2 separate regions of the Homo sapiens genome follow, and region 2 is linked to region 1. Evidence: fine-mapped expression QTL. A gene starts in region 1. The other region holds a variant in brackets. All regions are shown on one strand. Distances are between the middles of the regions.

Region 1 (11,604 bases):
TAAATGCATGAGGTAATAGACAAATGCATGAGGTAAATCAATTACTCTGATTTGATCATTACATATTGTATATCTGTACCAAAACATCACATATACCTATAAATATATACAACTATTATGCATCCATAATTTAAAATTAAAAATGTAAATTTTTTAAAAAACGGTATAGGCCAGAAGCCCTCAATATGCCGATATTGGCCTAGCTGGATCCCACACTTAGATCTACTAATGACATCAGCATTTTTAACCTTTAAGCATCCCGTCATAGAATAATCCCAACATTATGAAATCACTAGATTTTATTCTTGGCCAGAACGGCAAGTACCATGAGTAATGGAATCCCATTCATAATTGTTTTTATTCCTCACAGAAGGCAATACTGAAGACATTTAAATCAGTCTGAGTACTTGACTTTTGCTTAACTAAATTATTTAGGAATAGGTTCAAGATTGAACTATAGGGGAAAACTATAGGATTCATCCTGTTAATCTCCTTCAAAAATATCATCTGTCATTTTGACACACTTTACCCCATTAGACATCTTCATAAATTATCCCATAGTGCCTCACACTTCAGGGGAATGTATACTTGCTCAGGAGTAGGTGCTATGTAATTGCTTTGACAATAAACAAATCAAAGAACATACTTTGCAGGTGACTTATAACTTTCAAAGATCTTTCACTATAAATGTATAGAAATTCCATCTAAGTTAGCTATAAAGCAAAGAATATTCTTTCCATAATGCCACCATAAAATTGAAACATAAAATTATGATTCAAGATTAGCATTCTTTTTGGCAAGACAGGGACTGTAGATAGGGGAGTGATGTACTTGCAAGGCACTGCATTTACTAAGGTTACCCCTCTTAATATTTTTGAGATCCCTAAGTACTTTCAACAAATGTAGCATGATCATCTGCTGCTGCTTCCTACTCCTTCATTAAACTATATAATTCCACATATGAAATTATGTGAAATATAATTTCACATTATATTTCTCCCATAACTGAGGCTCCTCTGTTATAAGTACTCCCCATAACTGAGGCTCATCCTGTCTTCCAAACTGACACTCCTGGGACTTTGCTTCCTCCCTTCCTCACGTGTTTGAAAGTTAATAATGCCTAAGACCCTAGTGGTACAACTCACGGACAAATAGGACAAACTACAGGGTAAAGTCCAACTTAAAAACCTAGTTTTTCTTGTATTTCCAACGTTTAAGCAAGAAATTTGATCAGCAATATAATGTTGAAGTTATATAAAATAAGACAAATAGAACCAGAGTCACTTAGATTCAAAGCTCACATTTAAATATTAGTCAGTTGCTACCCTAGACACTCAGATGACGTTTTCCTTGGTCCAAACCCCTTATTGTGTGGCTTTGAGCAACTTTTAACCCCCACTGCAAGAGGAATCTAACTTTATAGAAGATGGGCTGGCTATTATTTGAGGACAGAGAAAAAGAACCATGTCTTTAACAAAGTAAAAAGGAACAGGTCTCAAGGGAAATGAAATCTGGGGCTCAGTTCCTTAAGGCTTTTAATGTTTCTTTTGAGACGCAGTCTCACTCTGTCGCCCAGGCTGGAGTGCAGTGGCGTGATCTCGGCTCGCTGCAAGCTCCGCCTCCCAGGTTCGTGCCATTGTCCTGCTTCAGCCTCCTGAGTAGCGGGGACCACAGGTGACCGTCACCACGCCCGGCTAATTTTTTTTGTTATCTTTAGTAGAGACAGGGTTTCACCATGTTAGCCAGGATGGTCTTGATCTCCTGACCTCGTGATCTGCCCGCCTCGGCCTCCCAAAGTGCTGGGATTACAGGCGTGAGCCACCGTGCTCGGCCAAGGCTTTTAATGTCTTAACAAACTATGCCTTCCCCCAAATCAAGTTCACTATTAGAAGTTCAAACACAACTGTACCTAAAAGTGTTCCATGGTCTATTACTTTTCCTAAGGCTTTGTAGAAACTTTTTCATCTGTACTTGCAGTTATAAGAACATCATTTTACAGGAGCAAATGTTACCACTTACAGGTGTTTTCCAGACACTAAAACCCTCTCATTCCCCAATCTTACATCTACTAATATTTCCTACTGATTGCTTGTTACAAGAATAACCAACCATACCAGGCAGATCCCTACTCATGGCGAAGAGATATACATATGTAATGAGATGTGCATTTGCTCAGGGCATGTTGCATGTTCCAGCCTGCATGGCATCACCACTGTGGACAACACCCACTCATGACGGACCCCTCCTTCCTATCTCTGGTCATTGTCTTCCCCAGGGTAGTAGCTTTTATCAACACAAACTGTGTCCACCAAATTCCAAAAGTCTAAAGTAAAAACAACCTAGATATGAGCCCAGCTCTGCTACTGACTGACAATGTGATCTTAACTTATTTAAATTCTTTGAACCTCAGGTTCCATATCTATAAAGATGAGGATCATGAAACTACTGTTCTCAGGGGGCTATCAGAAAGATTAAATGAGATTATGGTGAAGCACTCTACCAAAAAGTGAGAGGTAGAATGGAGCAGACTTTGACTAACTCATAAATAATGGCACAGATCTCAGGCCCGTCAAAGCAATCCTACCTTGCCGATGATATGAGCAGAAGCGAAAGCTGGGAATAAAGTAAAATGAAGGGAGGAATTAGAGGAGAAATGCTTAAATTAGGTGGTAGAAGGAGGAATGCAATCAAATATTGTGGGATGGAAGAAGGTGATGGTAAGATACAGTCTCAGAAGCTTACCAAGTACTAATATTCTGCAATCCAAATGCTTTAATGAAGTGGTTAACATTTAATTTATATTTTACAAAGTATGTTTTCCTCATATTTGTGGCTAAGTTTCAGCAGAAGGGTTTTGTTATTAAGTAATACTTTTTGTCCTGCCACCCATATAAACATCTTTCATATCAGATTTCATTCCAAGGATGTTTCAAGAAACCATTCGGTTCAAACACGTTTGTGACCTCTGTTCTTCAGGCCCCAGACACACAAAGATGAAGGCCAGGTGAATTTAGGTGCATCAATCATTACTTAAAATGTGCCTCTTAATCTCAACCAACCACAGCAGGCAAAAGAGGAAGAAAGACTAAAAGCTCTACCCAAACACTAACAGTAGTTGCTTCTAAGTGACATTTTTCTGCCACATTATACTTCGGTATGCTCCAAATTTTCTACAATAATCTGGTTTGGTTTAAATAGGAACACAAAAGAGTATATCCTTGTAATGGGGACAAAAATAGGAAGATCAATAAGACCTAGTATTTGCTAGCACAACAGGGTGACTATAGTAAAAAAAAAAACAATTTAATTGTAAATTTTCAAATAACTAAAAGAGTACAATTGGATTGTTTGAAACATAAAGGATAAATGCTTTTGGTGACAGCTACCCTATGTACTCTGATGTGATTATGCATTGCATGCCTATGTCAAAATATCTCATGTAACCCATAAATATATACACCTACTAGGTACCCACAAAAATTAAAAATTAAAAAACAAGAATATATCCTTGAAGCTGGGAACTTTTACTTGCTAATAGATGGTACAGAATTTACTGCAATGAGATTCTGCTTGTATACTAATAATTTTTACTTTAAAACAGACTTTAAATACAGAGTTTATATCTCAGATATAATTTAATGCAACATCTGCTTTCTAAAGATGCAAAAATCGAGATGGTAGGATCGCTTGAGCCCAGGAGGCAGAGGTGGAGGTTGCAGTGAGCAGAGATTGCGCCACTGCCCTCCAGCCTGGGCAACAGAGCGAGACCCTGTCTCAAAAAAAAAATGCAAAAATTAAGAGTCACAGTTGAAATGATTTGTTTAAGATCACACAAATAGTAACAGTTTCAGGACTAAAGCCAATGTTCTTGATTTCTAACTCAGAGCTCCTTCCACTATGACACTGTTTGAATTATGCTTCTCTGAAGTCCACCACCAACTGGGGAGCATCTGCGGTGTATGAGGTGCTACTGGAATACAAAGATGGCTAAGAAAGAGCTATTCCCTGGACTCACGGGAGGCAGTTCAAAAAAAAAGAAGGCCGGGCGCGGTAGCTCACACCTGTAATCCCAGCACTTTGGGAGGCCGAGGCAGGCAGATCACCTGAGGTCAGGAATTCGAGACCAGCCTGGCCAACATGGTGAAATCCTGTCTCTACTAAAAACACAAAATTAGCTGGGCGTGGGGGCGCATGCCTGTAATCCCAGCTACTCGGGAGGCTGAGGCAGGAGAATCGATTGAATCCAGGAGGCGGAGGTTGCGGTGAGCCAATATCGCGCCATTGCACTCCAGCCTGGGCAACAGAAGCGAAACTCCGTCTGAAAACAAAACAAAAAAAAAACCAAAACAAAAGAAAGAAAGAAAGAAAAAAGACAAGGCCAGGCACGGTGGCTCACGCCTGTAATCCCAGCACTTTGGGAGGCCGAGGCAGGCAGATCACCTGAGGTCAGGAGTTCAAGACCACCCTGGCCAACATGGTGAAACCCCGTCTCTACTAAAAATACAAAAATCAGCCAGGCGTGGTGGCCTATGCTTGTAATCCCAGCTACTTGGGAGGCTGAGGCAGGAGAATCACTTGAACCCGGTAGGCGGAGGTTGCAGTGAACCGAGATCGAGCCACTGCAGTCGCTCCAGCCTGGGCGACAGAGCGAGACTCCGTTTCAAAAAAAATAAAAAATAAAAGACAAATTGACATGAGTTCTGCTTTCACTATTAAAAAACCTTTAGTACCTACAGGTGAAACTTAGCTTTTGATTTTTCCCCTTCTTGGAAAGAGTCTGCATTTAGTCAGCTAACATTCTAGTACCACTCACAAGCTAAAGATCTTCCGTAATTTGCAAGGGAGGCAGTAGGGGGATGAGAGTTATAAGTTAGCTAACAACCAACTATTCTTTAAAGCTTAACTGTGAACTTAACTGCAATTATGCATTTCATTGACCTTCTCTAGTGTAATACCAGCTCGTCCCTTAGAAAAGAGGAAAATACACTTACGTTTTTATTTCTAGTGGTTCTAAGAACTTGTGATTTGGCTCCAGATTCCTACATGAAAACACTGCATATATTCACCTCCTTCTCTTTTCACCGCATTCGAGTTTTTCTGTCTACTACACAAAATGATAGATAGGGCCAGGTCTGCCAGAACCCTAAATACAGCGGCATCGCCCTGCTTCCTTCCAGGGGATCTTACTATTGGAAGGGCTCTGCTACACAGTACCTCAGACATCCAGAAGAGAGTTTATCTTCCCTCCAACTTCTATATATTCTTGCCATAAGGACAGCACTACCAAAGCGGGCTCCTCCTCTCAGTTGACAGAACGGTGACTGCCTGCGAGGCTCATTCTGAGATAGGGACAAGGGAAAGGGACCGGGGCGATAAGTGAGGGTCCCAGCTTGAGGGCTGGAGTGGGCACCAGACTCCCACCAACGACTAAACCGGGGGAAGTAAAGAAACTGGCCTTCCCCGCACCCAAAAATAAAACATCACATCACTAAAAAATGTAAACGTTCGCAACATTTTCTAAAACAAAGCCACTCACCTGCAAAGGGGCCACCAGCAGCAGCAGCAGCAGCAGCAGCCGCTCCTCCGAGCCGCCAAAGAGCCAGCGCCTCCTAGGACTCATCACTGCCGCCGGCATCGACGCTCTTTTCTAGCCCCTGAACCAGACGTGGGCAGGTCCTAGGGCTCTGCCTATTGGAAAGTCGAACTGTCACTCATCCACGGTCCCGGCCTACTCCCGGAACAGGAGAGGTCTCTTCCGTTTACCAAATCCCAGGAGTAAGAAGTGGGGCTCTGATTGGTTTACTCTAGAGACGAGCACATACCTGAACCAGTAAGGAGTTGGCTTCGACGCCAGCGGGCAGGCTTGGGCCTAGGGAAGTAGAAAAACACACCCTAGAGCGTCGCTGGTGCAAAACCTCGGGTGCGGGGAGCATCTTAGCTGTTTGAGGTTCTAGAAAGCGTTTAACGTCTTAAAAGAAACACCTGCGGGTGAAGACAGGTGTCAGCGGACTCTTGGAAGAGAGGAGGTGATGTTTCTTTTACTTATGGGAAATTTAGGGATTGAAACCTGAAGACGAAGCCGAGGTATCCTCCCAGAAGAAGCTCCTTTCGCACAAATTACTCGTGGTTGAAAGTCTTAAGTCGTGATTAAAACAAATGCCTTTAAAGTGCCCAATTTATAGGCAGTAACGCAACCTTACTTTCTCTTACCGCTTTTATAGGGATTCCCCTAGGCAGTTTGCTGACAGTATTTTAGGTGGGGAAGAAAAGTGATTAATGGAATGCCCTAAAAGCTTATTGCACAGAGGAAGGGAGGCTAGAGTGGAATGAGAGAATGACAAATTTGGAGGCGACAATAACTGAACAAGAGAAATCTATGAAAACACCGGAAACCTGGCACGAGGCCTTAAAAGCTTCTAAGCAGGCTTGAACTACCACACGAGGTTTTGAAGCATATGTGTCAGAACTCTTGGGTGGGCGGGAAAGATAAGGAATGTTATGGGAGATTCCCTTCTTAGAAGCTATCCTAAGTAGTGTTTCGTGTCCTCCTGTGAGTTTTTCCTGTTTCATCCTCCTAACAAATGCATTAGGTTTGTGACACGCAAGCAAGTCCTCAGAATAAATTATACATACAGTTGAAAAGATAATCTTTCCACATTTGAAATTCTGTGACACACTCTTTATTGAACTCATTAAGACCTAATCGTAGCCAGTTCTGTATCTCATTTATCCATGTTAGAGCATGACAGTTCCTCCTGGGATATCAACAGAACTTTACTTCCGGGACGGCACTAATCCGAGGCTTGACAGGTCCCAGCAGGTGATAGGTCTCACCTAGTGATAGTTAGAATTTAACTTGCACAAGATTAACTAGAGTTCAGGCCAGAACAGCTGGAAGGGGCAGCTTCCAAATCTTATACATTTGCCCTCTTGCTTTTTTCTCAATATCAGTTGAGGACAAAGTAAGGAGAAAGCTTTTCTTCTACAGTGTAATAAAGCTCCTATTCAGAGTGCCCACCATCCATACTCCGGAGGCTAATGACAGTCATTACCAAGTGACAGTCTTGTGGCATTTGGCATTTAGGGCTACTTAGTCTGGACTTAAGGGCGCCTACTCATTGGATTTAAGTTTACTGTTGTTATGGACACCCATGGAATGCTAGCTTGTCACATAAAACCTTAATATCAAACATCACTTGCCTTTTAGAATCATTCGCAAGAGTATGTGGCTTATGAATGAGTCATTTTGATATAAGATGGAAGCTTATATCAGTGATTCTGTCTAGAAGGAATTAAAAAGCAGATTTTCATCAGGAGCAAGCATGTTTGTAAGACAAATGTGCACAGAGGCTAACAGAATTTCAGGAGTTACTTTTGCCCTATGGCAAGATTGTTCTCCATACTTAATTATGTTACAGTATCATATCCTGAACCCTGTGTCCTGGTCTATTCGATGAGCTGTCTCTCTTATGAATTTTTAAATAACGAGGTCGTGGTTCACAAAGATGATCATAAATCCATTTAAGGCAAAGATGAACTCCAAAGAATATTAGACTTGTACAAACTTAGTACTTGACAGGGCTTTGGAAATTAAACTCTAGCTCCTTGTTGTACAGATAAAGAAACTGAAGCTTAAGTGATGTGCTCAGAATTACTTGGTTGGGGACAAATCCTGGGCTAGGACCCAAGGTTGCTAATTCATATAATTCTGGGAAGATGCTTCCTCTTCCTGCTGCCTTCTCCTCCTCACCCCAAAAGCAATGTATTTTTTAAATTAAGATTAATTTTAGGATTCACTTCCATTGAAGACCAGTCATGAGGACTTCAGTTCTGATACAGCAAGTGATATAGATACTATGAAAATAATTCAGTGTCATCAAACAGCTTTTGATGTAGTCTCACTTTTATCCAAACAAGAAATGAAAAGCAATAAATTATTATAGCTATGTTGTCTCTTTGTCTTCCTTTCTGTTACAGGTGTATATCAAAAAGTCAGTATTAACCCATGTGATACTTTGAGTTTTAGTTGAAAATTGTCTTCCTTGTGACCTGAATAAACCACTATTTTATTGATAGCATACATACCTGGTCAAAATAATTTCACAGTTATGTGCACAGAGCCTCTAGCCTTTTCCACGTATGGCTGAATTGGTCCACCGTGCATCAAAACATCATCCACGGACCTAGGCTATTCTCCCTTTTGCTAGCCTAGCAGAACCATTGGCTCCCTCCTTCCAGCAAACTCCAGAGTTAGCTAGTTCTATATGCCATGTACAGGAGTGTCTCCTTTTCTTCACAGTATCAGGACACACCATGAGTTGGTTATTTGCTGCCAGTGTTTAGTCTCCAACTGTACCCTACTTACTTCAGGGTCAGATTAAAATTTACCACTCGTAACCTAGTATAATAGACCTATGCGTGGCCCCCATCATTGACCTCCTAAGTACAAGACTCCCTTTTCTGAAACTAAAAACTGGAAATGCTGTTATGGGTCAGCCATCCAGACCTCTCAGAAGGGACCTTAAAGTCTGTCCCTTTCTTTCAGAAGTTAAAACTTAGAATCCTCATCTTCCTCACAGAGTAGGGTGAAGAATCATGGAGGCAGTTTTGGAATAGCTTTGCAATCTTTGAAGCACCTTGTGTCTGTCACTTTCCAGCACTGGGAACTCAGGGGCTTAATTGGACTTACAGTTCCATGTGGCTGGGGAAGCCTCACAATCATAGCTAACTCTAGAGTTTGCTGGAAGGAAGGAGCCAATGGTTTTGCTAGGCTAGCAAAATGCAGAATAGCCTAGGCAAATTGCTTGACCTCAGCCTCAGTGTCTTTATCTGTTAAACAGAGATAATACCCAAATCGCTAATGTGAAAATTAAGTGGGATAATGTGATGTGTGCCTGCCACATGGAAAGCATCTCATAAATGGTAGTTGTTATTCTTAACAATTATGGTAATGATAAATGTAAAGCATTTTACCTATTTACAAGTATTCTTATTCAAATTACTCAGTAAAGTCTTGGCATTGCGCTTGCCTCTTTTTCCTGCTCTCCACTCAAGTGGAGACCTGGACTCTTGCAGAGGGCATGAGACTGGGATTTCCCCAGCTATCTTGCAGCTACCCAGGGAGGTAATGGGCAGGAAGTGAATGCCAAAGAGGGTACAGACCCAGTGGCAGAGCCAGGAACCTCTGGTATTGGGAAGCCTGATCTATGTGAAATTCCCCTACAGTAAAACTAAACATTGACTAAGCACCTTGGCATAGGAAAAGAGCCAGGTTGATTTTTTTTCCCCACTACTTTCAGATCTGGGACAAGGATAGGGGAAAAAGGTAGAAACATGAGGAATCAAGAGAGGTGCTTTCCTCTTTTACAAATTCTCTACTCCACTAAGGAAAAACCCATGTTTCTTTAAATGCTTGTTGTTTATATGCTGGTAAACACAAACTCTGCCCTATGGAGTTTTTTTTAAAGCTTATATTTATTAATTATAAATTTATGTTTTAAAATGTTTATTGTATAAGGTTTAGAAAAGAAAAAACTTAAAATACCTATAATCCCACCCTCCAGAATTTATTTTTAACATTTTGTATATCCTATTTTTCCCATAAATCAATTACTTAAAAAAAAACCTGGACTCTTAGTATATATACTGTTTTGTGGCAATCTTTTCTACTTAATTTGTTATTAACATGTCCCAATGTCATTTAATATTTTTCTTCCGTATATAATCCCATTACGTGAATGTGCATCCAGGTGGTATGTACAAGAGTAGAGAACTGTCCAACCAATTCTCTACTCTTGGGCATTGAACTTGTTTCAGTTTCCTAAAAAGATTCATTGATTTAAATGGGCTGCTGCTTTCTCTAAATGACGGTGCTCCGGGAATGTCTACTGAACCAATGGCAATGCCTACTGGCTCCACCCTTTCTTCATGGAGACTGATAAAGTGGCCAGGAATTTTTTTCTCTATGTTCTGATATTACAGAGCTAAGAAAGGTGAAGATAGTAGCCTGATAGCTACTGAAGGATTTCTGCTTACCCTCTGTCTCCACAGAGTTTTCTATTCTTTAACCTGAAGAAAAGGTGTTTAGCTGAGGAGCCAGGGTGGGGAGGTGATATGGAGGGGATGGTGGATGGAAATCAGAGTTTGTATTAGTCCATTTTCACACTGCTGATAAAGACATACCCAAGACTGGGCAATTTACAAAAGAAAGAGGTTTAATTGAAGTTTCAGTTCCATGTGGCTGGGGAAGCCTCACAAACATGATGGAAGGCAAGGAGGAGCAAGTCATGTCTTACATGGATGGCGGCAGGCAAAGAGAGAATGAGAACCAAACGAAAGAGGTTTCTCCTTATAAAACCATTAGATCTCGTGAGACTTATTCACTATCATGAGAACAGTATGGGGAAAACCGCTGCCATAATTCAATTATCTCCCACCAGGTCCCTCCTACAACAGTGGGAATTATGGGGGATACAATTCAAGATGAGATTTGGGTGGGGACACAGCCAAACTATCAGGGCTCCATCAGTAAATCCTCACAAAACTCCTGGCATATGTGTCCCCATTTACAGATGAGGAAAGTAAAACTGGGAGAGATAATTTTTCTAAGACTGCACAGCTAGTTACAAAACCAGAGTCTGACTCTTAGCCTTTGTTCTAAGCTCTTCCCACCATGCACTGCTCCTAAAAACTTATTGATATAACTTCATTCTTCTTTTCTTTGGAAAATTTGTTGTCAGTCATCTAAGATGTATTTATCTGCTCCCTAAAAATAAAATTAAAAAACCCCTCCTGACCAGGATTTTCTTCTGCCTATGGGCTTCCCCAGTCAGCTAGCTCTTGGATAAAAGAACATATCCTCATTCTTTGATGAAGACTCAGATAACATAACTTTTCCCCTACATACATGCATATTTTCTTAAAGAAGTGACCTCACTCTACAAGTTGGAAGGTCAAACTCATAAAAGGAAGTCTTTATGAACCCTGCATCAACTTAAGAACATTACACACATATTTGTTTCCTTAGCTTTGGGGATTTATGAAATATTTTCTATATAGCAATAAGCCTATTTTTCTGCTATGGTTTATACACTGGTTCTGACGTAAGTTCTGAAAGAAGCTTCTCAGAATTGTTGACACCCATGAAGCATCTTTGAAATGGGTGTGTAACCTCATAATATAACACTTAGAAGGCAGTGACACTTACGTGGAAGTGTAATTTCTAGAATGTCTCATTAAAGCCTCTTTACACAATCTAATCCAAATCAGTATCAATCAAGGTTTATGTTTCAAATATTTTTTTCCATCCTCCTCATCCTATTCACAGACACACCACACCCCTAACACACTACCAACACCTTAGCCCAAGCTACCATCACCTCTTGCCGGCATTTTCTCAGTAGCCTCCTAACAAGTCTTTCTGAATCCACTTTTACTCTCTTCTAGGCAGCCAGGGGTGGGTGATATGGTAGAATACCTTAGTGATTGTGTCACAAGTCACCCCCTACCACTCCCCAGCTTAGAACAGTGGCTTCCCATTGCTCCTTATAGTGACCCTTCCTTCTCCCTATGATCATTTGGCCTTCACACATGTGTATTCCCTAC
Region 2 (11,604 bases), 41 kb after region 1:
CATGCTTGTAATTCCAGCACTATGGAAGGCCAAGATGGGAGGATCACTTGAGCCCAGAAACACAAGACCGGCCTGGGCAACATAGTGAGACATTGTGTCTACAAAAATGAAAAAATTAGCCAGGCATGGTAGTGTGCCCCTGTAGTCCCAGCTACTCAGGAGGCTGCGATGGGAAGATTGGCTGAGCCAGGGAGGTTGAGGCTGTAGTGAGTTGAGATCACACCACTTCACTGCAGAGCAACATCTTGTCCCCCAACCCCAGAATACCATTGGTTCTCCTCTCTTCCCTGTTCCTTGGAGATATCATAGGCAATCACTTTCCAGCCACTATTGTGTGTTAAAACAATCTGACTTTTCAGGTACTAAAATGTACTATCTGGCTAAAAACTTCAAACTGTAATGCATTTCAACATGTTTCCCCTCCCACAGTTCAGAACTGATTTTTGGTTGATGGATTTAACAGAGGGAAGAAGGCGTGTGGTCTGTTCTTTCATTCTCCTTGCTCTTTGCTTTCTCCTCCCCGAGCTTGTCCTGGTATGGATAGCTGGAGCCACTGCTAATAAACTGCTAAAATAGCTCCTTGCAGCTTGTAAACAATTATGTCTGCAGTAAATGAGGTAGAGATGCTGGAAATTCCTTGGCAGAGGAAGGGATCTAAAAGTTCAGAAAGGTAGGCATGTTAGAACTGATGTATTGTGAGACACCAAAGAACCACTAGATGATTATGTTTCCCATGAGGACCCAGAGGATGCTCTCTTTACTAAAGCAATAAGGAATAAAGCATTCATAAAGGAGGCACTAGCACCTTGAGAAACTCAATGTTGTGTGTCCTCTGTAGGTCAAGATTGATAGTAGGAGACACTCTCAGAAACTGGGCTCCCTGGTGTCAATAAGAATGATAGGATCTAGAATAGCCAGATGACAGCATAAAACTGTCGAAAGGTAGGATTGTTGAAATTAGCTGCTGCGTTAATTTCCACAACAACCTTGCAGGAAGACAGGTATACTCAATTACCCTAATGGGTAACAAGGCCAGAGTAACAACTAGGGAGCCTAAGACTAATAAACTATGGTATCCTAGCAGCTACATACATTAAGATATTGTTTGATTAATAATCTGAAAAACACCTTGGGTTGGTCAGCACATGATAGGGAATCATGATCTCTTGTCCCGTTTTAAGAACTAAGGCCATTTTAAGACTTAGAATACACTGATTAAAGGGCCATGTCCCCTTGAGGAAGTGCCAGCAATGCCATAGCAAGTAGTTAAAGTAGCTATTCACAATCTTTCCTCAAGTAGCTACTTGCTGCATCCTGAAGTGATTTGTGTCTTCCTCAAACACTTAAAGGATGCAGGAGTGATTCTCCCCATGAAAACCCATTCAATTTACCAGTTTGGTCCTTGTTTGAACTAGACAGATGATGGACCTTGATCACCTGGACATTCTGGTCATTGTTCCACTATTTTGATGAGATCATGCCAAGCAGACCTGGTAGCAAAAAGTGACTAGAGTTCTCAATGCCTAAGTAAGGCATCTGCACCTCAGGTGATAGAAGATAAGCCCTACAAATATTCAAGGGCATGACACATCTGTGAAATTTTTAGAGGTGCCTTGATCTAGACCAGGGATTGCCAAACTATGGCCCATGTATCACATCCAGCCTTTGGTATGGTTTTTACTTTTTTTTTTTTGGAAAAGGAGTCTCACTCTGTCACCCAAGCTGGAGTGCAGTGGTGCCATCCTAGTTCACTGCAACCTCTGCCTCCTGAGTTCAAGCGATTCTCCTGCCTCAGCAGTGGAATCCTGAGTAGGTGGGATTACAGGTATGCACCACCATGCCCAGCTAATTTTTTTTTTTTTTTTGAGACTGAGTCTCGCTCTACCGCCCAGGCTGGGGTGCAGTGGTGTGATCTCGGCTCACTGCAACCTCCGCCTCCTGGGTTCAAGCGATTCTCCTGCCTCAGCCTCCTGAGTAGCTGGGACTACAGGTGCAATGTCACCACGCCTGGCTAGTAGTAGAGACGTGGTTTCACCGTGTTAGCCAGGATGGTCTTGATCTCCTGACCTCGTGATCAGCCCACCTCCGCCTCCCAAAGTGCTGGGATTACAGGCGTGAGCCACTGTTCCTGGCCTAATTTTTGTATTTTTAGTAGAGATAGAATTTCACTATGTTGGCCAGGCTTGTCTCGAACTCCTGACCCCAAGTGATCCGCCCACCTTGACCTCACAAAGTTCTGGGATTATAGGCGTTAGCCACCGCGCCCGGCCAGTTTTTACGTTTTTTAATAATTGAAAAAAAAATCTAAAGAACAATAATATTTTATGATATGAAAATTATTTTAAATTAAAGCTGAATATTATAAATGAAGTTTTACTATAGCATAGCACACTTTTCATTTCCATATTGTCTATGGCTGCATTTGAGTTTCAACAGCAAAGTTGAAGAGTTGCAACAGGGACCATTTGTGAAATCTTCATCACTTCTTACTGCTGCTTAGTGAGTTGACTTGACAGTGTTTCAAGTGCCAAGCATACTTGTTTTACTTTTATTTTATTTTATCAGTGCATATCTTTCATGTCAAAACAAGAAAAGTCAACTTCAAATGTTGCACTTTTAAGTTACTGTGGCATCTGGCTTTTTTTTAATTGAATTAGATCGGAAAGCATGTGTTTAGTATGCACTGACACTATAACTATGCTAAAACAACAGAATATATGTCAACATTGCCAGACTAAGCACTCATCACAATATGTCCAATTCACAGGAAAGCAACAGGCAGAACAATTAGGAAATTTAAAATAGAATATCTTATTATAGTGGAATTTCTTCACAAGAATTACAAATGTAAATGAGGCTGCAACCAAACTTAGTTTCCAAGTGGTTCATTTGTTAGCAAGCAAGGAAACCCATTTATCAATGGTAAGCTAATTAAACTGTGTTTTTATTAGCTGAAGAAATGTGTCCGCAGAAAATAAACTTGTTCAAGACTGTGAGTCTTTTGGTAACAAAAGTTGATTGAAAAGTTGAGGACATTGGGAGCAACATCAATAGTTAAAAACAAAGTTAATTGTTCTGAGTATCTTTCCTTGTCTCTTGATGAATAGACAGATGCTACTGATACTGCTCAGCTGTTGTTTTTTACTTGAGGTATCAATGCTAAGTTTGAAGTAACTAAAGAATTAGGTTCTATGAATAGTCTGTATGGAATAACTACAAGTGAGAATAATATTTTCAAAGAAGTTGGTAAAATTTCTAATTCAGTATAATCTGAAGTAGAATCTGCTAAGATGTGCTACACGGTGGTAAAAATTTGTGTGAAGCAGACAAAGGGTTACATGGACTCATTTAAAAGCTTGTGAAAAAGTAAGATGTTAAAACCTGTAATCATTCATCAGTAGGTACTTTGCATAACATGTTTGATTCTATCATATGTTATTGAACAGGTCATGTCCAAAATGGACCTTATTCACTTTTGTGGTGTAAACATCTGCAGTTCTATGATTTTTTTGTCAAAAATAGAAGCTGAATATCCTGAATTGCCCTATCAACAAGAATTTAATGGCTTAGCAGTGGTAAAGCTTAATTGTGATTTTTTGGTTTTTGCTCAGGCTGAAACTAAAATTTTTCTAAACAAGAAGAGCTACTCTCAACCACTATTATTCTAGTCTGAATGACTTTGGAAATTTGTTTGCTAAATTTTGCTAATTTTTAGGTGAGACACAATAAGTGTTCTTATTTTTTAAAGCTATGCACTGTCATTGACAGATAAAAGGATATGATGTTTAGGATTTGTTTCAAAATAATCAGGGAAGTAAAAAAGTACAGATGAAATAATATTGTCCGTAAATGATACTAAAGCTGAGTGATATGTACACTACATTCAATACACTATTCCCTCTAACTTTCTATATGTTCAAAATTCCTATAATGAAAAATTAGGAAAAAATCAATATCCATTATTATAGCTGACAAAGAAGGAAGTCATCTTATAGATAGGCTGGCCTACAAAGATGTCCTAAGAATCAAGAGACAACCAGAATAGTCATCAAAGTGTCCATTATGGCAGCCAATCCTTCAGGCAGCTGAGAGCCTGGGAGTCGCTGCAAACTGGCTTGGAGCTAATGAGCCACATGGGAGTTAAATCAGAGTGGGGCAGGGGTGAGGCAAGCAGATGATTTAGGGTGAGAAGAAATAAAGAGTCCACAGAATAAGGAATGAAAAAAAATCTCTAGAAATCCTCTAGCTTGTGGGAATTAACAAAGGAATACTCTGGGTTGGCCAAAGACCCAGCTGACTGAAAACAGTGCAATCAAGAGCCAACTTACCCAGGAAACAGATGTGCAGGAATTCCAAATTTCCTGAAGTAGTATGGGAAAGTAGAGTAACTGACTCCCAAAATTTTTTACAAACTCAGAAAGGAGTGAAAAGAAGGTAGGCTTTGGAGAACTCCTGGATGAACATCTTGCTTACAGAAAGTTCACATGGAGAATCAATGGCAGGAAAGGTAAGAAGGGCACTGCTACATGTGGTGTGCTCATTTCAGACAATGAGCACACAGCAACATCCAGGATATTCTCCTGCCTTAGAAGGAATCACAACAAACTGTAAAATACCAGGAATGAGGAGATTTGTCCAGTGGAGATACGTTGGGGCAGTCACTGAAAGAGTGAAAATAGCTGCCTGGCTTGAGAAAGCCGCCTATTTGAAGCCATTCTCATCTAAAAGTATAGATCAGCAAGTCCAAAGTTATAATCATCACTCCATCCCCTACAATCATCGTGAGTGATTTTTTTCTTCAACACTCAAGTCAATTCCACCAACATTTTGCTGACACTGTATTGGGAAGTGTGGAAGATAAAAAATACGTATTACCGAAACGTGGACCCTAACACAGGGACACTCACCTCTAAGTGGAGAATGTAAATGGCCCTTGCAACAAACTGACCCTGAACTCCTTGACCTTCAACTTTAATCTTCTTCAGTCTTTTTCAGCCACACCCAACCATAGCCACTTCTTTGGTATTATCCTCCCTAGTACTCCTCCATCATCAAGATCTCAAACTCTGAAATTCTTCTAGACTACAAACTATTATTCTTCTGTCTTCCTGGTACCTCATAATTTTTTCTGTTTACCCTCGTCGTGAACTCCAGACCCCTTGAATGCTTCTATTCAAGCCGTCTCTTGGTTTCACTTGCCCCCTTCGTAGCCTAGACACCATAGACATGCGAAGCGACTAAAGACCACTAGGTGGCAGCAGAGCCCCAACTAGACTGTCCCCCAGCTTGGGCACCAAGTCAGATTATTAATATTTATAATGAAAGCCTGAAGTTTGAAGGGGTAAGACAATAGTGGAATTAAACAAACAATAGCAAATAATACAGGGAGGTCAGTCAGCTGGGGCCAAGAAGATCTTAAGCCCCATGCAAGTGTAAACCAGAGAAATGGTGAGACCTCAGCCATTGGGGAGATGACAGGTTACTCTCAGGTTAATTGTCTATAATCATCTCCTATCTGTCTACATGGGTAGCCTTTCCCCTGCTTTGAAACATTTCCTGCTAAACAACCCTTAACGATTTTCTATTTAAAGATCAGTTAATGTCACTAGGCCTCCTGGAATCCTTTGTACTTAGGCAATTCCCAGCACTAGATAAAATCAAACTTCTTGGCCAGGCATGGTGGCTCACGCCTGTAATCCCAGCTCTCAGGGAGACAAG[A/T]GGCGGGAGGATAGCTTAAGCCCAGGAGTTCGAGACCTGCCTGGGCAATATAGCGAGACCCTGTTCTCCACAAAAAGGAAACAAGAAAAAAGACAAAAAAAAAATCAACCTTCTTATCTCTCTTTCTCTGGGCAGCCAGGTGCTTGGCAGAAAATTACAAAAGTCTGCACAGTGACTTAATTCTAAATATGTGATATGTAACCTCAGTGGTGACTTCAATGTTCAACTTTCATTCTTCATGAACTTCTTAGGGGATTCCTCATGGAAGTATTCTAAGCCTTCCCCACTCCCTGAAATCCCTTACCACATTTCAGCTTCCCCAACTGCAGCAGTTGAGCTCACATCCTCCTTTATCTGGGGGGCTGAGGTCATCCATCCTGTCCTCTCTGAAGCCCTTCTCTACTGTAGAAAGAGCATAGGAGCTACAGAGTCTTTCCGGGTAGGTGTACCCAGTCGGATGGAGAAGATAGAAATTCCACCCTCTTCAATAGAAAGTAATAAAAATGGATATCCTGTATCTCATCTCTGAATCAACTTACTCCCCCAAAAGATGTTACAAACATTACTAACTGGAGTGTTTTCTAAACCATAGGAAGGAGCCTGAGGTGACGTCTTTTACAAATTTTATCTGGAAAGGCAATGCTTTCAAACTATACTCCAGCAAAATATGCTCCCATCATTAAACTTCAACTGACTTTATCCTATCCCGGTGGCATGTGGTTTGTGTATTCAGTCCTTCATTTGATAAATACTTACTCTAGAGACAAGCCTCATAGCCACTACACATACTGCCAAATACAGAGATGATGGAAGACTTGTATGTCTGATAATGAATATTGAAAGGGAAGAATCATTCATCCAGAATTTATGAGAATCTCCCTCCACAACTATCAAAAGAGGATCTACCCACTGGGCTGCAGGCATATGGCAGTGTGCTCTGTCCTTAGGATCAATCAAGATGGTAAGTGCCTCAGGCTTAAGTTATTTATTATAATCACTCTTCTGATATGCAAATCATTTTCAAAGGTTTTCTGGCTACTGAAAAGATCATATATGACCAGCAGGCAGGTGCACATATGTTTCAGTCGGCTTGATGGATATATCTCTCTGAATAGTTATGTAAGATTCTACTATATTTATCAGTTTTTTAATGACTAGATTATTATGGATCATCCCCGATATTATTCCTGAGTGGACTAACAAAAATACATTTTTAGAAATAATTTTTTAAATGTCAAAAACTGTAGACTGGACCTTGGTCTCAAAATGACCCTACTAAGGTACTGACAGCCTAAAAGATTCAGCTGGAGCCTCCTGTCTTTCTCTTGTTATTTTTTTTTTTTAAGACGGAGTCTAGCTCTGTCGCCCAGGCTGGAGTGCAGTGGTGCGATCTCAGCTCACTGCAACCTCTGCCGCCTGGTTCAAGCAATTCTCCTGCCTCAGCCTCCTGAGTAGCTGGGATTACAGGTGCCTGCCACTGCGCCCAGCTAATTTTTGTATTTTTAGTAGACACGGAGTTTCACCATCTTGGCGAGGCTGGTCTTGAACTCCTGACCTCGTGATCCACCCGCCCCAGCCACCCAAAGTGCTTGGATTACAGGCGTGAGCCACCGTGCCCGGCCTTCTCTCTCTCTCTTAAAGCCAAGGGTATTAAACACACATCCATTTGGAACTGTATTAATTGAGGTTATGTAATTTAATTGATGTATCAATATTAGTAAACTAATAAATCAATTTTTAATAAATTGAATTTAAAAATGAATTTAATTTGTGGAATTTGAACTGTATCCATTAATTGGGGGTATTCATCAAAAACAATTGGGTGTAACATAGGAATATAAGACCTATATCAAATATTTGGAGGGCTTTCATTAGGAATAGGAAAAGACCCGTTCCGTGCCGTCACTGCATGCAGAATTGAGATCTACAAATGGAGGATAAAGGAAGATGGCATTTTAGCTGCACGTTAAGAAAGACTTGCTAAACACAAGATTTTCTCCTAAATATTCGTTGGGAAGTGAATTCCTGATCCCTAGAGGTGTTTAAACATTAGCCAGACTGTGTGTAATATTGAAGATCTAGAAGACCTCCAGTGCCTCTGGGCCCCACCAGCCTCGAGTCTATGATTCTGTAACTAGGCAACTTAACTTCAAAATGCATTTTAAACGTTTTTTTTCCTTTCTCTTGGATTTCAACATATAACCTTGAAGCAAACTGCAGAAGCCTTTTTCCTTAGCCTTAAAATGGACTCCACGTCCCTCTTTCTCACCGAATATAGTCCCTTCACATTTATCTAACTGCATGCTAGTGTCTAAAGGCACATAATTATTATGGGGCTAATTTTTAGGCAGACCAAGTCTGGAGACCCCGCTACAGAATTCCAGAGATGACTTCAAGGTGACTAGTCAACAACCCAGCCATTGTTAAGATGATGCCAGCCTGAGATCCAGGTGGCCTGGGACCCAAGACAGCCACCAGAGCAAGACACACAGGCATTGGAATCAGCACAATTCCTGCATGCCTTCCTTACCAAGTTTTCCCATTTTGAACTCTTGCTTTCCCCGCTAGATACAAAGCAGTTCCTTTGGATAGGAGGAATCCAGCAGCTTCCCCTTTACTAGTGTTGGTTAATAAAGTCACTTTCTTTCTACCAGACCTCGCTCTTGTTAATTAGACTCCGCAAGCAGCGAACATGCGTTTGGTTCCACTTCTAGACTGGCAGGCACATGCTAAACCTCCTAAATCAGCCACATCCCTTCTCCTGCAGCCTGAAGCCTACGGCTGCATGCTAGCCTTGGAGTTACCTTTTCTACCAGCCCTAGCTCACATCTTGCACAGAAAAAGGGCAGGGCTCCAGTGAGACAAAGCTGTTAGTTTTTCAGGTGGTAGAGCTTGCCGCTATGAGTGTGCTGCTTTGTACCTAGTGAATGCATAATGGGTGAAATTGCAGCTGATAATATGACGATGAAGCAAGTGTTTAAAGTCCTTGTCTGGATGCTTGGTTTCCGGCTTGTGGGTAGAACGGAACTAAGTTACAAAACATTAGGACACGCCAATTGCAGCAGGATTTTCTGCTTTAGAATATTAACTGTTTGTTTATAAATAAATCAAGTGAAGCTAAACGGACAGAAGCTGCCCCTTTAGTGTTGGAATCAGAGGAGACAAAAGGAGCCGAAAGTTGTATTTTCCCAAGATCACTTGTTCCCTCTGAGAGCTGAAGCAGAAATTAAGGAAGCAGATTCAAGAGTTCCAGTGCCTTTAGGGCTAGCTCCAAATTGTTGCCAAGAAAAAGTATAGGGTTCAGAAAAAGCCTCTTCTGACGTTAAATTATCTGAGAGGCAAGCAGAAGAGGGGGAACTTTATTTTTGGCAGATGTGGGAATATTAATACTTTAGGAAGGGTTGTAGTTTCTAACTTTACCAATTTACTAATTTTCTGATTGTGTACTTTTAAGAAAATACTTGGCATGTGGTTTCTTCTGAAGAGTATACATGGGAGATGTGGGACTTTTTTAAAATAACTTTTTTGGGACTTTTTTTTTTTTTTTTTTTTTTTTTACAATAACTAGCACCAGGAAAAGAGGTTCTTAAGAGAAAGAATGAGCTGGGGACATGTGGCTGTTTCTGATTCTCACAAGCCTGCTCTCCTCCAAGAGTCCACAGCCCTGGCCTTGGTGGGAGAGAGTGACAACGATGTATCTTGTACAAACAAAAGTCAAAATCCCAAATCTAAAGACAGGGTGAGCAAGGTGCATCTGCAAAGTCATGGTGCCGAGAACTCAGCCAGCAAACTTAACATTTGATCAGACCATATCTGGACGTGGAAATCCAAACTGCAGAGAACCAACCTGTGGAAGTCATTACAGTTTATTATAAAAAAAAAGTAGAACCTTAAATGTGTGTCTCAGGTGATGATTAGAGTTTGATAATGTTACTAAGACAATTAAAAAACCTAAGCTTGGGTGATTTTTGTTTTTACAGAAACCAAAAGGTAGACCCTGTATATTGATTAAGCGTTGAATTCCAGGAGAAACATGAATGATCAGTAAATATTCACTGCTTATGAAATGTTTTTAAAAACTGTTATAACCCCTGTTATTGCCACATAAAGGAAGGTCATTGTCTTTCTGTAACCCTGGGACCATGACAAAACTCTTGACATTTCTGTATACTTTTAAAAACATTTATCACCTTCTTAATATACTGTAGAAACAAATACTGTTTTTCTGTCCTTCTGAAATTCTGCTTTGCCATTTTGATACACTGATTGTCTGAGAACTACTCAGACAAGTTTGTTTTTGTTTCTGTTTTGAGACAGGGTCTTGCTCTGTGGCTCAGGCCGGAGTGCATGGTTATGCCTCACTGCAATCTCCACCTCCCGGGCTCAAGAGACCCTCCCACCTCAGCCCCCTGGGGTAGCCGGGATTACAGGCTGACACCACCATGCCCAGCTCATTTTTGTCTTTTTTGTAGATACAGGGTTTTGCCATGTTGCCCAGGCTGCTCTTAAACTCCTGGGCTCAAGAGATCCTCCCTCCTTGGCCTCCCAAAGTGCTAAGATTATAGGCGTGAGCCACCATGGCCAGCAAAACCAGTTTTATTACTCACATTGATTTAGTGACGTTTCTTCCCAGTTAACAATTTTTCCATTTTTGCAAACTGATTTGGTAAAGGGGACAGACCCTTATGTTTGGTGTTTTTTTTAATGTTCAACATAAAATAAAATGGATTTTAAAAAGAATATGTAAGATTCTTCCCCAAATCATTTCTTTTCAATTCTGCTTTGTATCTAGTTTGTCTTTTTTATTTTCTTTATTAACTAACTAATGATTCTTTTTTTCTCTTTTGGATAATTTCAGAAAAAAATTTCAGGAAAAATTGCAGAAATCGTACAAAGAACTTTTTTTCCTTAGTAATTTGAGAGTATTTTACCAACATGATACCCCATCACCCTTAAATGCATTAGTGTGCAATTCTTACGAAGACTTACACCTCTTACTATATTTAAACCATTGAAATGAGGAAATTAATTCTAATACATTACTATCATTTTGTTTCAGACATCATTAATTTTTTTTCAGTTGCCCCAGTAATATCCATTTTAGCCAAATGATCCATTTTAAAATTACATATTTCATTTATCATGTCTTTTTAATATTATTTGATTTGGAACCATTTCTCAGTTTTTATGATTTCATAATTTTGACTATTTTAAACACTACAGACCACTAATTTTGTGGGATTTATCTCATTGTGGGTTTGTCTGATGTTTCCTAGTGTTTAGATTCAAATTATACGTCTTTAGCAGAGATATCACAGATTTGAAGCCGGATTCTTCACACTGCATACTATCAAGTGGTACACAATTTCAATTTGTCCTATTACTAGTAATATTAAATTGATCACTTGATTAAGATTGTATGGTAGGCAGAATTTTAAGATGGCCCTATGACCTTGGCTCATGATATTACTCCCATGATGGTGTTATATTGCAAATGGACAATTACCGAAGTAGGCCTAATCTAAATAAATCCAGCCTTTAAAAGCAGAGAGTTTTTGAGAGCTGATGGCAGAAGTCAAAAATATTCGAGATGTGGCAGAGATTCACCTCCAGAGAAGCTCTACCTTGTTGAGATGGAGAAGACCCACAGCACAGAACTGTGTGATTGGCCTCCAGGAATGGAACACAACCACCATCTGACAGCCAGCAAGGAAATAGAGACTTTGGTCTAATTGTAGCAGGGAACTGAATTCTGGGAGAGGGATTCTTCCCCAAAGCCTCCAGAGAAGAGCCCAGCCTGGCCAACACCTTGATTGCAGCCTTGGGAGACCCTAGGCAAAGAACTCAGGGGGACTGCCTGGACTTCTAACTTACAGAACTATAAGA

Direction of the effects. Positions count from the first base shown, and alleles are read on the strand shown. Sizes are in standard deviations (SD) of each study's normalised expression.
For the expression in aorta of the gene that starts at base 5,621 in region 1, T is the low allele of the variant in region 2 and A is the other (small effect, 0.23 SD a copy in GTEx).

What was found.
Region 2: its variant is fine-mapped to the expression of BPGM in aorta (GTEx, PIP 0.96).

Annotation. Positions count from the first base shown.
Region 1 is chr7:134,640,870-134,652,473 of GRCh38, reverse strand. BPGM (bisphosphoglycerate mutase) reads right to left here and starts at 5,621. Exons shown (of 3, transcript NM_001724.5): 1 at 5,537-5,621. All of the region lies in intron 1 of LOC124901750 (a long non-coding RNA gene), which reads left to right. RefSeq lists a silencer at 1,983-2,277 and enhancers at 5,285-5,394, 5,495-5,644.
Region 2 is chr7:134,600,158-134,611,761 of GRCh38, reverse strand. No RefSeq gene overlaps it. Among named protein-coding and RNA genes, the nearest start is that of BPGM, 41 kb to the left of the region's middle. The variant A/T (reference allele first, on the strand shown) is at 5,719.